Homo sapiens: one gene and its partner. The protein of the gene in region 2 purifies or fractionates together with the protein of the main gene of each other region. This does not show direct contact. Each region holds a gene or a part of one and is shown on either strand. Other genes may lie near its edges.

Region 1 (7,351 bases), on a different chromosome or scaffold from region 2:
CTATGCAGGATTCAGAGGACAGCGTCTGTCCCCAGCTGCAGCACGGTAACGGGCACACACATTAAGATAGTAAGAGATGTCCGCTGACGGCCACCAGCTTCCCAGCAGGCTCAGAGAAGTTACTGGAGTTGGAGCTGGGTGACAGCGTGCACAGGCCCAAGCATGGGATCCACCCAGTTCCTGGGAACTACGTCCCTCTGCGTTTCTGCCCAACAAGCTTCCCTTCATGAAGCCCATGAAACTGAACTCATGCTGTGCGGCTGCAATGTCTCGCTACTGTTAAGGAGGACAGTGAAGTATTTTGGGATACACATTCGCTTTTAATAAAAAAGAAATTTCCTCCTACAATTGATCCTGCACACGGGGGGGCCATGAGCCACGCCTGCTGACTCATTCCTCCAATTCTCAAACACAAGCAACGATTCAGGTCCTGGTGAGAACCATTCACGACTCCTCCGGGACCTGTTCCACCCTCCCCGTCATGCACAGATGATCTTAGTAACCAGAGTAAGAGTCTGCCTGAGACACGAGTCTTTTTTCCTGGCTCCAAGGGCTAGTGCCAAAGTTCCTCCCTCCACCGGGGAGGGAGGTGAGACTTGAGTCCCTGAGTGGGTGTCTGGGTGTTCACGTGTCCTGCTGAGCAGCGCGGGGCGGCTGCCTCCAGGTCACCACACCTGGCACACCCGGATCACCTCCCTCAGCGCCTTCAGCCCCTCCATGCTTTTGTCCTTCACGGCCACGGCGAGGAGGACTGCTCTGTTTCCAGCTTCTTGAGACACAAACGCTACCAGGTTCTTTGCAAAGACATGGATGAGAGGCTGGTAAAGGAAGGAGAAGAAACCATTTTAACTGCAAGAAACCTGGTTTTTTCCTCAATGCTTTCATGAAGTATCCCTTAGGAACCCAGGCAGGCTTCCCACACCACCATTAACCGCCACATAAGTCCATGCAACTGTGACTCAGAGTTCTGGCAGCACTCAGAACACTCCAGTCACGGGCACACTGCTAAAGACCATCACTCCATTCATTTTCCCAGCGCCTTCCGCAGCCCCGCCTCTTCTGGCTCTCTCTCATCTAAAAGAACCCAGGAAAGAGAAGCCTGCAGAAGCGAGTGCTGTCGAATCTCACGTGTGATCTCCACAGAGCACAGCACAGCCAGCCGCCTGCTCACGTAATGTACCATGGCAGGGGAGGCGGCTCGAATGACAAAACTGCTGCTTCTGCTTGTCTGCTGGATAAAATGCCTGCGGGCTGGACAAAGCATCCACTGAGGGCAAGCAGGGCGCCTTGAGACCCACAAATGCCCGGAAAATGCTATCGCTGTAGGGGTATTTGTCCGCCAGATGCCCCATGTCCTTACTGACAAATCACAGCCACTGGAGAGGTTTATGCTCCTCCCTGGGGGTCCCTTCCTGACCACTTTATTATTATTATTATTATTATTATTATTAAAGACAGAGTCTTGCTCTCTCACCCAGGCTGGAGCGCAGTGGCACAATCATGGCTCACTGCAGCCTCAACCTCCAGGGCTCAAGCCATCCTCCCACCTCAGCCTCCCAAGTAGCTGGGAGCACAGGCACACACCACTAGGCCCAGCTAATTTTTTGTTTCCTTTTCTTTTCCTTTTTTTTTTAAGACCAAGTCTCTATCTGTTACCCAGGCTGGAGTGCTGTGGCACGATCTTAGCTCACTGCAACCTCCGCCTCTCGGGTTCAAGCGATTCTTCTGCCTCAGCCTCCTGAGTAGCTGAGATTACAGGCATGTGCCACCACACCCAGCTAATTTTTATATTTTTCGTAGAAATGGGGTTTCCCCATGTTGGCCAGGCTGGTCTGGAACTTCTGACCTTAAGTGATCTGCCCGCCTCAGCCTCCCAAAGTGCTGGGATTACAGGTGTGAGCCACTGCACCCAGCCTCTCTCTATATATATATTTTGTGTAGGCACTTGTTTTTTTGTAGTGACTTGTGTGTGTGTTGTTGTGTTGCCCAGGCTGGTTTCAAACTCCTGGCCTCAAGCGATCTGCCCGCCTAGGCCTCTGAAAGTGCTAGGGTTACAGGCGTGAGCCACAGTTCCCGGCCAATCCACTTTACCTCATCCTGCCCCAGAAGGACTTTTGTGGTGAGCACAGGCTTGCTGACGTCACTGGCCACGCTGCTGGGCTCCAGGGAGACCAGGGTGCCCATCTTCCCAAACTGGGTCACCACCACCAGGATGTGACTGCTGAAGGCCGTACACACCACCTGGGTGGGGACCCCGCACACCACCTCCGTCTTCTGCTTCGATATCACCAACGGCGTGTCTTCCATGGCGGGGCTCTGCAGTGGCAGCTTTAATTTAGGTTAAAAAGAAAGGGGAAAAAAAGGAGTCAATCAAACAGTACAGCCTTGGGGCTCCCAAAAAAGTAGCACGGGGCATTGAAACGGAAACGCAAGGAGGCCCATTCAAAAGAAGGGGCCAGGCGCGGTGGCTCATGCCTGTCATCCCGGCACTTTGGGAGGCCGAGACAGGACGATCGTTGAGGCCAGGAATTCGAGACCAGCCTGGCCAACATAGCGAGACCCCCATCTCTACCAAAAAAAAAAAAAAAAAAAACCAGCAGGGCGCGCCTGTGGTCCCAGTTACTCAGGAGGCTGAGGCGGGAAGATCGCTTCAGCCCGGGAGGTCGAGGCTGCGGTGAGCCGTGATCACACCATTGCATTACAACCCGGGCGGTAGAGCGAGACCCTGTCCGTAAAAAAATAAAACAGAAGCAGGAGCGGGGCCGCCCATAGAGACCGCGCCTGGGGCTTTCTGGGTTAGGGGATCGACTTGCACGTTCACACTGCCAGGCCGGGCAGTGGCTTCCCGCCCCTCGGCCTCGCCGCCGCCCCGGCCCTGCAGCCGCGGCCCGGGACCCCCACGACACGCGGTGCCGAGGCCGGCCGGGCTACTGGGGACGCAGCCGCCCGGGGAAGCCCGCGGGTACCCGCGCTCACCAAGCCGGCGCCGCGCCCGGAAGTGGCTCTGCGTGCGCCACGCGGGCCCGCCCCGTCCGCGGGTTCCGTCCACCTTCCGGAAGTCAGGGCCGCGGCGCTTCTGGTCCCGGAGACTTGGGGCTCCCGGGCTTCTGAGCGGCTCGGGTTCCGCGCTGCCGGCAGGGCTTGGGGGCGCCTTAGAGCCGAACCCCGTTTTTTCAGGAAAGGGCGCTGCGACCACCCCCGTCCCGGGCCTCAGCCCCTCTGCTGCAGACCCTCGGGATCGTCGCTGGTAGGAGCTCTGTCCCCCGTGTCTGTGTCCAGGACCCCCGAAGCGCCGCGCCTAGGAACCCCCTAGCGCTGGGAGCCCGGCCCTGCTCGACCACGGGCTTTGGGCTGGAGGCGTCATCGTCGCCACAGCGAACGCTTATTTGGCACCGAGTGTCCGCCAGGCATCGCTCTAAGCGCTTTATACCCATAACTCACTTCATCTCAGCCACCCGGTTCCGTAGAAGCGTTTCATCCGCGTTTTACAGACGTGTGCAGGTGCAGAGAGCTCGGCCAGGCTCAGGCGGCGGGCGGGCTGGGGTGGGCTCCGACCGTCCCTCGGGCGCTCCGTGACACGAAGCCCCGGCCAAGGCCAAGAAGGGGGCCAGCCCCACCCTGAAGCGGGATGAGTTCTGGTTCCTCCCAGGGACCCCCTCACTCCCTACTGCTCACTCTCAGTTTCTCCAAGCTGGAAGGTTTTTTGTTTTGTTTTGTTTGAGACGGAGTCTTGCTGTGTCACCCAGGCTGGAGTGCAGTGGCGCGATCTCGGCTCACTGCAGCCTCCGCCTCCCTGGTTCAAGCAATTCTCCTGCCTCAGCCTCCTGTGTAGCTGGGATTACAGGCGTGCGCCACCAGGCCCGGCTAACTTTTTAAATTTTTAGTAGAGATGGGGTTTCACCATGTCGGTCAGGCTGGTCTTGAACTCCTGACCTCAGGTGATCTGCCTTCCTCGGCCTCCCAAAGTGCTGGGATTACAGGCGTGAGCCACCGCGCCCCGCTGCTGGAAGTTTTATTGGTAGGGTCGGACATCTTGGTAGCAGAGGCTGAAAGTGATTGGAGCCTCCAGAGCCTTCCTCGGGGTGGGGCGTTTAACATCCCTTCAGAACCCCACCCTCGGAGGCCTTACTGTCGTTTCCTGACAACCATGTCAAGGCCGTATTTTCTGTCTATATTACCAGAAAGGGGTCCCGATCCAGACCCCAAGAGAGAATTGAGGGCGAGTCCACAAAGTGAAAGCAAGTTTATTAGAAAAGTAAAGGAATTGAGGCAGGAAAACAGGGTCTGGAGGCAGGGAACACTTCAGCTATGACAGGAAATACCCTCTCCATAGGGTGTACACTGAGTAAATGATTTTGTAACTTTATTTCATCCTCTTTATTTACATAGGGCGTACACCAAGTAACCAGTAGAAACCCCTAGAGGGTATTTAAACCTCACAAGTTCTGTAATGGGGCCCTGAGCCTCTATGCTTTGGCCGCCCCCACACCATGGAATGTACTTTCATTTTCAAAAAATTTCTGCTTTTGTTGCTTCATTCTTTTTTTGCTTTGTGCATTTTTTTTTTTTTGAGACAGAGTCTCTGTTGTCCATGCTGGAGTGCAGTGGCGTGATCCTCACTGCAACCTCTGCCTCCCGGGTTCAAGCAATTCTCCTGCCTCAGCCTCCTGAGTAGCTGAGATTACAGACGTGCGTCACCATGCCCGGCTAACTTTTGTGTTTTTAGTAGAGACGAGGTTTCGCCATGTTGGCCAGGCTGGTCTTGAACTCCTGACCTCAGGTGATCTGCCCGCCTCGGCCTCCCAAAGTGCTGGGATTATAGGTGTGAGCCACCGCGCCCGGTGGCTTTGTGCATTTTGTCCAATTCTTTGTTCAAGATGCCAAGAACCTGGACACCCTCCACCAGTAACAGAATAAAGAATGGCTACTCCATAGGCAGAGCAGCATGGGCTGCTGGTTGCCCATTTTTGTGGTTATTTCTTGATGATATGCTAAACAAGGGGTGGATTATTCGTGCCTTACCTTTTTAAACCCTTTAGGGTAACGTCCTGGCATTGCTATGGCATTTGTAAACTTACGGCGCTGGTGGGAGTGTAGCAGCTGGGACGACCAGAGGTCACACTCATCGCCATGTTGGTTTGGTGGGTTTTGGTCAGCTTCTTTACTGCAAACTGTTTTATCAGTAAGGTCTTTATGACCTGTAGCTTGTGCCGACCTCTTATCTCATCCTGTGACATAGAATGCCTTAACTGTCTGGGAATGCAGCCCAGCAGATCTCAGCCTCATTTTACCCAGCCCCTATTCAAGATGAAGTTGCTCTGGTTCAAACACCTCTGACATTTACACCACTGAAGCTCCAAGGAAGATCTTGACTCCCTCTTCTCACCATTTGATGACTTCGTATCCAATCCAAGTCAAGTCAAATGAAGCATGCTCCTTCCAATGATGATTTCTGGAGGCCTAAAATAAAAAGCATGCATACAGAAAATGATCAAAATAGACATAAATCAAGGGGAAATTCATTTTTGAGCATTCTTGCAGCCAGTACACAAAAGGAGAGATGATGAGTTTCATGGTTCTAATACTCAAAAAACAGGAAGCATATCAACTTCCCAGGAAAGTCTAAGTTTCTGTCGGCTCTAAATTTAAACACACATCCACCCACACATACCCCACAAGCAAATTGCCAGTGGATTGCTTTGCCATCTGAAATCTTCAAAAGGTTCACTCGCTTTTATTCACCTGTTTGTGTATTCTCCCTCTCTGTAGGCAAATAGATACAAGAAATCTGATCCTGTCCTCTCAAAGAAAACCCTCTGAAATAAACTTATCACCTTTAAAAAAGGGATGTTGAAGAACAAGATGGATTTTTGTTGTTGTTGTCGTTTTTTGAGATGGAGTCTCGCTCTTGTCGTCCAGGCCGGAATGCGGTGGTGCGATCTCGGCTCACTGCAACCTCCGCCTCCCAGGTTTAAGCGATTCCCCTACCTCAGCCTCATGAGTAGCTAGGATTATAGGCACCTGCCACCACGCCCGGCTAATTTTTGTATTTTTAGTAGAGACTGGGTTTCGCCATGTTGGCCAGGCTGGTCTCAATCTCCTGACCTCAGGTGATCTGCCCGCCTCGGCCTCCCAAAGTGCTGGGATTACAGACGTGAGCACCCAGCCTGGATGTTGTTTTTGATGACACTGCTAAGCACTTATGTGAGGGATTGTTTGGGTGGTTTGGGTCTAGATCTAAGATAAAGACAGTAGGAAAGAAATGAGAGGTGGAAGGTTGTCCTAGGCTGAGGTGGTGGTCCAGGGACTTTCTGGCAGCCTGGATGGATGCCTGGGCAGAATTTATATATCTAGAAGAATGGAAGAGGACCTCATTGCATGCCATTGACTGTTCTCCAGTACCCAAGGGTAAAGGAACTGGAAAGAAAGACTCACTCAAGTGCATTCACATAAAATGGGAATCTAATAGTAATGGTGCCAATTGTGGGGCAAAGAGTTCAAGGAGTTATTTTGAAAAATGAAAAAAAAAGCAAAGTATCTTAAATTTGTCTTATATTCAATAAATTGTCGGTGATAATGCTATGGTGTGTGCATTTGTAGAACCAACAAAGACTTAGTCAAGTGCCGATTTGGTAGGATTGTAATTTTTCCGACAAATTGTATGATCGCTACACACGTTATCCTTCCCATTGTGTGTGATTTTCCCAGCTCCAGGATGAAGAGGATTGGTTTTACAAAAATGGGCAAGGACACCATCAATTTCCCCACAAGTCTCTCTCTCTCTCTTTTTTTTTTTTTTTTTTTTAGACAGAATTTCACTGTGTCGCTAGGCTGGAGTGCAGTGGCAAGATCTTGGCTCACTGCAATCTCCACCCTCCAGGTTCAAGCGATTCTCCTGCCTCAGCCTCCTGAGTAGCTGGGATTACAGGCACCCACCACCACGCCTGGCTAATTTTTGCATTTTTAGTAGCGACGAGGTTTCACCATGTTGGCCAGGCTGGTCTTGATCTCTTGACCTTGCGACCCGCCCGCCTTGGCCTCCCAAACTGCTGGGATTACAGGCGTGAGCCACCGCACCTGGCCACGTCTCTCTTCATCGTTTAATAGTCTCACCCTTTCTTGTTGAAGGACCATCCGGCCATTAGCCATGGGCGTGGCCTCACTCTCAGCCGCCTGACTGTGTAGCTTTGCCAGGGCCTCCCACACTGACCCACTGCTTTGGTCTCCATCTGAGCATCCCTGGCATCCCATTTGTGGGCTTCCTGAAACCGTTTTTTTTTTTTTTTTTTTTTTTTGAGATGGAGTTTTGCTCTTGTTGCCCAAGCTGGAGTGTAATGGTGCAATCTCGGCT
Region 2 (7,951 bases):
TGTGACCACATTAGCCATGGTCTTTGCCAAGAAGAAGGGTTTAGGCAGGACCACACGATCCAGATGGTTCCTCAGCACCCACCCCCAGCCTGCCAGGAACCCTATTCATTTATTCCCAGCATTTCAACTTGTCCCAATAAGGCAGTGACCTAGTCCCAGGCCAGGCCTCTCAGGGTGGTCTAGAACATCTAGTCGGCCAAGCCCAACAGGCACCATAGACCACAGAACTCAGCAGACCCCCAGATCCTTGAACCTGGAGGGACATGAGAAGGCCTCATGGTCAAGCTCCTGTCCCTAGCCAGGATAATCCTTTCTAAAAGTGCCTGCCTCATTCCTTGCTGCCTGCCACCTCCATTCTCCACAAAGAACCCCCTCACGCTGTGCTTTCAGTGGCTCAGCCTTTGCTTAGGCCTTGGCCATGAGTGGGTAACTCCTGCCATACCTTCCAAACCACCCTTCCTCAAAAACCCTTCCTGCATCTCTCAAGGCTAGATGTGATGCTCCTACTGCTCCCTGGGCCAACCCCTAGCATGGCTCTTATTTGTCCCTCATTCACTCAAATATCTACTTAAGCACCTGCTCCATGATCTGTATAAGGCAATGAGCACCAGATGGGGAGTGCAGAAAGCCAGGCTCAACTGCACAGCTTTGCCACCAACTGGCTGTGTGACTTTGGACCCATCGTTCCTCACTGAGCCTCAGTTTCCCCGGTAAAGTGGGAAAGATTCTGCAGCTCAGCCTAACTTCCAGGGCTTCTGTGAGACTGGGCGGGATGTGAAAGCATGCTGTAAACACTCAGGGTGAGTCATGGTTATCAGAACCTAACCCCTCTGTAGCCTGAGCTCATTTTTGTCCATCCCATCCCTGGAGTCCCCCTCTCTCCCAGGGGGCTGGTAGCCTGTTGGGGATGAACTTGGGAGCTCATGCCTTCCAAGGGGTTGGCACCTGGGTGAGAAATTGGGCAGGAGCACAGCCTACAGGGATGAGAACTTTAAACAAAAACAGCCCATAAATCTTGCCATATAGGGGCAGGGGCCTGGCATGGCTGGGGCCAAGAAGGCATGCCAGGCTGTTCTCTGAGGCAACAGGAGTAAAAGATTTTACGCTAAAGTCATCAAGAAGCCACTGGAAGCACAGCGGGAGGAGGTGGAGACAAAGAACACGGAGCTAGGGGACTAGATACCTGGGTTCTGCTCTGTGTTGCTCTGTGACCTCAGTCATGCTCCTTCCCTTTTCTAGGCCTTAACCTCCTATCTGTATAGTGGGTGCGTCAGCCCAGGTAGTACCCAAAGGCCCTTTCCAACTCAGACAGGCTGTGCCAGCTTTACTTGCCCTTCAGAGCTTTGGCTGTGCCAGGGACAGGCAGGAACAGCTGGTAAGTCTCTCAGAAGGAGCAGGAGCCAAAGAACCTGTGCTTACTGTGACCTCCTCTTCCAGCTTGTGGAAGGGTCAGGCTCTTCCCCGTTTCCTCCACCTCTAGGTAGATGGAATTCACCCTTGGTCCACTTTGCAAGCTACAAGGTTGACACAGGTGCAGAGAACACAGACTCTCAGATGCTTAGGGATCATCCTGCTCATCACTCCCCATACAGGGAGAAACTGAGACCCAGGGAGACACAAGGGCTTGCTTGGGGTCACCCAGTATGTTTATGGCACCACCAGGACTTACACCCAGGGCTAATGTCTGCCTACCACTTGCTCAGTTACAAGTCTCAGCCAAGGCTCAGGTCTCTCCGCCTTGTCATCCCTGTCAGCCAGCCCCTTCCTTCTACTGATAGAGCCAAGCCTCAGTTTCCCTGTTGGAGTGAGTAAAGACATGAGGGTTTCTAGGTCAGGAGTTGGTGAGAATTTCAATCTGGTAATAAAGGGAGAGCAAGGAAAGCCAGGAGGTGTCAGAGAAGGGAGTAGAATCCTCCAGGCTAGGACTACTGTTAGGCAGAAAAACCTGTACTCAGGGCACAAGCAAAGCAGGAGCAGAGGGAGGACTAAAGTTCATTGCAAAACTATTAAACACTGTCACAGTTTGGGGCCTCTCAAGGTCTCAAGGGGGAATGATGATAAAGTTTAAGGGATCACCTAGTCCCACCTGGCTAGGGGGCAGGTAGTGGTAAGAAAAGGGGCCAGAATTTGAGGGTCCTTCTTCCCCTCTGCCTCACAGTGTCCCCTGAGGAGGCTATCTTTCTAGCTCCAGGCTCTGACCTTCTGGGCTCGTCAGACCCCAAGGGGCAGCTGGTCTCACTGCAAGAAACCTGAGAATTGTCCCCTGGGCCCTGACCCAGCTCCAAGGCCCCTTGGGGGAAGGACAGGAAGGGAGGAGAGGGCCACAGAACGCAGTAGATCTCCTCCCTCTTTGGCCCCTCCCAGCTACCCCAAGGGCAGCCCACACTCACCAGCTCTGGGGCCTGCAAGAGCCCTAAGACCAGCGCCTCAAACTTTAAAGCGTCATCACCTGGGCATATTGTTAAAAGGCAGCTTCTGTCTTGGCAAGACTGGGCCTGAGCCTGAGATTCTGCATTTCTGACAGGTCCCCAGGGATGCTGATACTGCGAGTCTGTGGAACACTCTTCGAGCAGCCCTGAGATTATCAGCCTTTAACCCCCGGGGGGAGGAAGCCGAAGGCCCAGAGAGGTCAAGTCACTTGTCCATGGCCACACAGCGAACAGCCCCAGACCGAAAGCAGAGGGCACCTGCCACAGACACACGACATCTCCCCACCCGAGGCAGCGGGAATCAGCTGCCTTTCCCTGGCCCGGGTGCCGTGTTTGTAAACTCGGCTGCTTGGTGCGGCTCGGGCCGGGGTAAAGGGCGCCTCCCAGCAGAGCCTCCCTCGTCTCTGAGCTGGCCTCTCCAGGTTCTCCGTCCGGTATCCCGGGCCGACCAGAGAGAGCCCGGGGCGCCGAGTCCTCTGCGGCGGAGCGATTCCGCACTCCCCTCTCCTCTGAAAGCAAACTTCTCCGCCGGCGCCCTTTACCTTTTTCGGGGGTTTGCAGCTGCTCAGCCTGCTGTGTCTGCAGCCCATCCTCCTCCGGGGGCTCCCGGACGCCGCTTCCCAACTCCGGGGCCCCCAGAGGAGCCTGCGATCCGGGCCCCGCTGCCCGCTCCGCGCCCGCCGGCTGGGGCTGCCGGCGAGACCCTGAAACTGAACCTGGAAGCGCTGTCTTGAGCCTGAGCTGGGGCGGCCGCCCGCCGTAAATACCCGAAGAGCGGGGCCTCAGTGTAGCCCGCAGGGCCAGCGGCGCCGCCACCAGAGGCAGGTGACCAGAATCCTTCTAAATAATAGGAAGCTCTGGTCAGGGCAGAAGAAAAGAAAACCTCAAGGAGCAACAGATGCTTTTCCGAACCCTCAGCTAAGAAAGGGCCGGGGGAAAAAATAATTAAAGCAATTATTTGATAAACTAACAACTATCATTCATTGAGGGCTGTTTTTGTCCCAGTTGTTTTATACATTTTATTTCTATTTCTTGCCATATCAGTGCAACAAAGGTATTACTTCCTCCATTTTACAGGTGAGGAAAATGGTGTTCAGAGATGCAACATGATTTGCCTAAGGTCACATGGCTAGTAAGTTACCACAGCCCAGATAGAATCCAGTTCCTTTTTTTTTTTTTTTTTTGCCGCTATCATAGTTCACTGCAGCCTCAAACTCCTGGGCTCAAGCGAGCCTCCCAGCTCAGCCTCCTGAGTAGCTGGGACTACAGAGGCTCACCACCATACCCAACCAAATTCTTTTCTTTTTTCCAGTCTGATTTTGAACGACCGCCCTCAAGCGATCCTCCCACCCTGGCCTCCCAAAGCGTTGGGATTACAGGCATGAGCCACTGCACAGAATACAGTTCTAACTCCAGAACCTAAACTTTGACTCAATGGCCTACAAATAAATCATAATACTAAGTTTATTGTATTTATTTATTTTTGAGACAGAGTCTCGCTCTATTGCCCAGGCTAGAGTGCAGTGGCACGATCTTGGCTCACTGCAACCTCTGCCTCCCAGGTTCAAGTGATTCTCCTGCCTCAGCCTCCCCAGTAGCTGGGATTACAGGCATGCACCACGACACCCAACTAATTTTTGTATTTTTAGTAGAGACAGAGTTTCACCATTTTGACCAGGCTGATCTCAAACTCCCAACCTCAGGTAATCCGCCCGCTTCGGCCTCCCAAAGTCCTGGGATCCCACACCTGGCCAATAATACTAAGTTTAATTTTAATGCCTCCTCACTTCTGGGCTGATAGTTTTTTCCACCTCACAAGCATCTGTAATATTTGACTCTATCCATCTTGGATAGATGTTATTCATCACAACAACCTCTTGAGGCAGGCCAGGTATGGTGACTATGGGACATAAAATGTCAGTGTCTAGGAAAAGGAGCTTTTGTTTATCTTCTCTTTGTTATTAGCTGAGGTTTCTGAAATGGCAATGCAGGAAAAAGATAACCAATTTTGAAAATCAGTGTGTATGCCTATTTGCGTGTATATTGGAATATTAAAGTCAGGCCCAAAACTCTTGGAAAGGTGTGCTGTGAAAACGGCTTAGAGTCATGAATGGGGAAAGAATATGAGACCTCAAAAAAATTGCTCCCTCCATAGGGTACAAAACCAATTGCAAAAGTGTGTAAGAAAGGAAACTAAGGAAACGTGTTATTAGGTTCTCAAAAGCAAGTATAATAGAGAATGGTGGCTCACAAAGTGTGATTCCCAAATCAGCAGTGTCAGCACTACCAGCCGCCTTTGTTGGAAATGCAAATTCTCGGGCCCCACCCCTGGCCTAAACTCTGGGGATGGGGCTTAGGAATCTATGGCTTCATAAGCACTCCACTCATGTCTGGCCTGGGCTAAAGTTTGAGAACCCCTGCCATAGGACGTGCTCCACAGGTACTGAAGAAACAGGATATACTTAAATTATACTAAAATTAACAATGTTTATTGGAACAGTGCTCATGATTAAAAACAAAGAACCCAAAACAACCTAAACAGCCAAGAAAAGAAGGTTGGTTAAATACATTATGCTATATCCATAAAAATAGAATGCCACATAACCAGCAAAAATACTGATGAAGATGAATTTTTTGTGTTACAAAACATAACAAACTCATTTTCATTAAAAAAAAAAATTGAGTGACTACCACTGTATTGGTGAGATTTTGAAATTTTAAAACAGTTTTTTTTTTTTTGAGACAGGATCTTGCAATATCACCCAGGCTGGAGGGCGGTGGAGTGATCATGGCTCACTGCAGCCTCAGTCTTCCAGGCTTAAGTGATCCTCCCACCTGAGCCTCCCGAGTAGCTGAGACCACAAGTGCCTGCCACCAAGCCTAGCTAATTTAAAAAAAAAAAATTTTGTAGGCCAGGCACAGTGGCTCATGCCTGTAATCCCAGCACCTTGGGAGGCTGAGGTGGATGGATCACCTGAGGTCAGGAGTTCGAGACCAGCCTGACCAATATGGTGAAACCCTGTCTTTACTAAAAATACAAAAATTAGCCGGATGTGGTGATGTGTGCCTGTAGTTTCAGCTACTCAGGAGGCTGAGACAGGAGAATTGCTTGAATCCGGGAGGCAGAGGTTGCAATGAGCCTAGATTGTGCCATTGAACTCCAGCCTGGGCAACAGAGCGAGACTCCCTCTCAAAGAAAAAAAAAATTTTTTTTTGTAGGCCAGACACAGTGGCTTATGCCTGTAATCCCAGCACCTTGGGAGGCTGAGGCGGGTGGATCACCTGAGGTCAGGAGTTCAAGACCAGGCTGGCCAACTTGGTGAAATGCCGTCTCTACTAAAAATTAGCCGAGCATGGTGGTGCATGCCTGTGATTCCAGCTACTAGGGAGGCTGAGGCAGGAGAATCACTTGAACTCGGGAGGCAGAGGTTGCAGTAAGCAGAGATCGTGCCACTGCACTCCAGCCTGGGCAACAGAGTGAGATTCCATCTCAAAAAAACAAACAAACAAAATTTATAGAGAGTCTCACTATATTGCCAAGGCTGGTCTCGAACTCCTAGCCTCAAGCAATTCTCCGACCTCAGCCTCCCAAAATGCTGGGATTACAGGCATGAGCCATTGAGCCTGGCTTCATTTTCTTATATTAAATAATGAGGGCGGGCACACTGGCTTACGCCTGTAATCCCAGCACTTTGGGAGGCTGAGGTGGGAGAATTGCTTGAGGCTAGCAGTTCGAGACCAGCCTGGCTAACATGGTGAAACCCTTCTCTACTAAAAATACAGAAAATTTGCCTGGGCGTGGTGTTGGGTGCCTGTAGTCCCAGCTACTTGGGAGGCTGAGGCAGGAAAATGGCGTGAACCTGGGAGGCAGAGCTTGCAGTGAGCCAAGATTGCGCCACCGCACTCCAGCCTGGGTGACAGAGCGTCTCAAAAAAAAAAAAAAAAAAAAAAAAAAAAAATGAGCATGCACTTATTACTATTGTAATAAACAATATTATTTTAATATGAAAAAGTTTTCTTTTAATATGTTTTTAAACCCATACATGAAACTATCATTAGTTTTTCATCATCAAGACATGGGCAGTTCTGTGAAATCCTAAAGAAATGGACAATGACTGTGATTAATTAGGTAGAAAAGCAACATAAAGGGCAAAGATGGCTAAACTGTGAGCATGAGATCCAAACCCGTAAAGTGATCCTGAACCAGTAATTTCTCCTTTCTGAGAGTTTCTCATCTATATGTTGAAGAGTTGAACTCTCCAAAATTGACCCCAAATTTTAATGTCAACAATTGAAATTAATAACTTGGGGCCAGGCATGGTGGCTCACACTTGTAATCCCAACATTTTGAGAGGCCTAGACAGGGGGAGCACTTGAGGCAAGGAGTTTGAGACCAGCCTGGACAACATAATGAGACCTTGTAAAAAAGAAAAATTTTTTTTAATTAGCTGGGCATAGTAGCGTGAGCCTGTTGTCCCAGCTACTCAGGAGGCAGAGGCCGAAGAATTGTTTGAGCCCAGGAGTTTGTCATTACAGTGAGCTACTATCATGCCACTACACCCCAGCCTGAGTAACAGAGGAAGACACTGTCTCTAAAAATAAATAAAGCAGAAGAAAATAAAATGAATAGCTTGGAGTGGTGGGTAGGAACTAGGAGGCAAGTTCTTTCCCTGGAGCCCCAGCTCTCAAGACGTCTTGCCTCCAGCCTCTTTGAGCCTCCTGGGAGAGCAGGTTCAGATTTCACAATTTCCCACTGCTGGATTTTTGGTCATGTGTTTTGAAGTTCATGCCTGAGAAACTTGAGCAGCATGAGTTTGATAAAGTTGCCAATGAGATTTTTGATGGTTGGTGTACCAGTCAGGTTAGGTTAGGTTTTGCTGAGACAATAAAAAGCATAACACAAGACTTTGTGACTTAACACAAGAGAAGCTAAGTTTTTGCTCACACTACGTGTCCAGAACGGGCAGGCAGTGGGCTCTGCTTCACAGAGACGTTCCACATCGTCATATAACACAGCCTTCTCAACATGACGGCTTTAGGATTTGCTGCACAAAGAGAAGGGAGTGTACCGAGAATAGTGCATAGGGCCTTAACTGCTTCCACTTGGAGGAGACGCACATTAGGTCCACTCACATTTCATTGGCCAAAGCAAGTCAAACAATCATGCCCAACTTTAAGAGGATGGGAAAGTGCAATGTGTGTGCAGAAGGAGAGGAGAATCAGAAATATTGGCAAATAGCATAATGTCTACCATAGTTAGCAATCAATAAGTAGCTACTACTTCTTCGGCAAGTAGGGTGACTTATCCTGACTTGCCTAGGATTTTCCCACTCTTAGCCCTGGAAGTCCCATATCTCCAGAGACTCTTCAGTCCCAGTCATGTTGGGATGGTTGGTCACCCTATGGCCAAGGCATAGTCAAGGTGCAAGAGAAGACTCAGTTCTTGTTCTTGAATTAGTTATAATCTGGAGTGCTTTTGTTTGACATTTGATCTATATGTAAGAAAAAATGGGAAACAATAC

Evidence for each region. Proteins that work in one complex are often made in the same cells at the same time.
Region 1: the proteins of CCDC69 (region 2) and PSMG3 purify together in Homo sapiens (affinity purification with mass spectrometry; 2 studies listed by BioGRID and IntAct, with this or other methods). This does not show direct contact.

The regions. Positions count from the first base shown.
Region 1 is NC_000007.14:1,567,033-1,574,383, forward strand, and holds PSMG3 (proteasome assembly chaperone 3), read right to left. Parts: upstream 3,001-7,351; 5' UTR 2,308-3,000; coding exon 2,092-2,307; intron 819-2,091; coding exon 666-818; 3' UTR 300-665; downstream 1-299. UniProt on the Homo sapiens protein: Chaperone protein which promotes assembly of the 20S proteasome. May cooperate with PSMG1-PSMG2 heterodimers to orchestrate the correct assembly of proteasomes.
Region 2 is NC_000005.10:151,220,952-151,228,902, forward strand, and holds the start of CCDC69 (coiled-coil domain-containing protein 69), read right to left. Parts: upstream 3,142-7,951; 5' UTR 3,020-3,141; coding exon 2,972-3,019; exon of another isoform or gene 2,525-2,971; intron 1-2,524. UniProt on the Homo sapiens protein: May act as a scaffold to regulate the recruitment and assembly of spindle midzone components. Required for the localization of AURKB and PLK1 to the spindle midzone.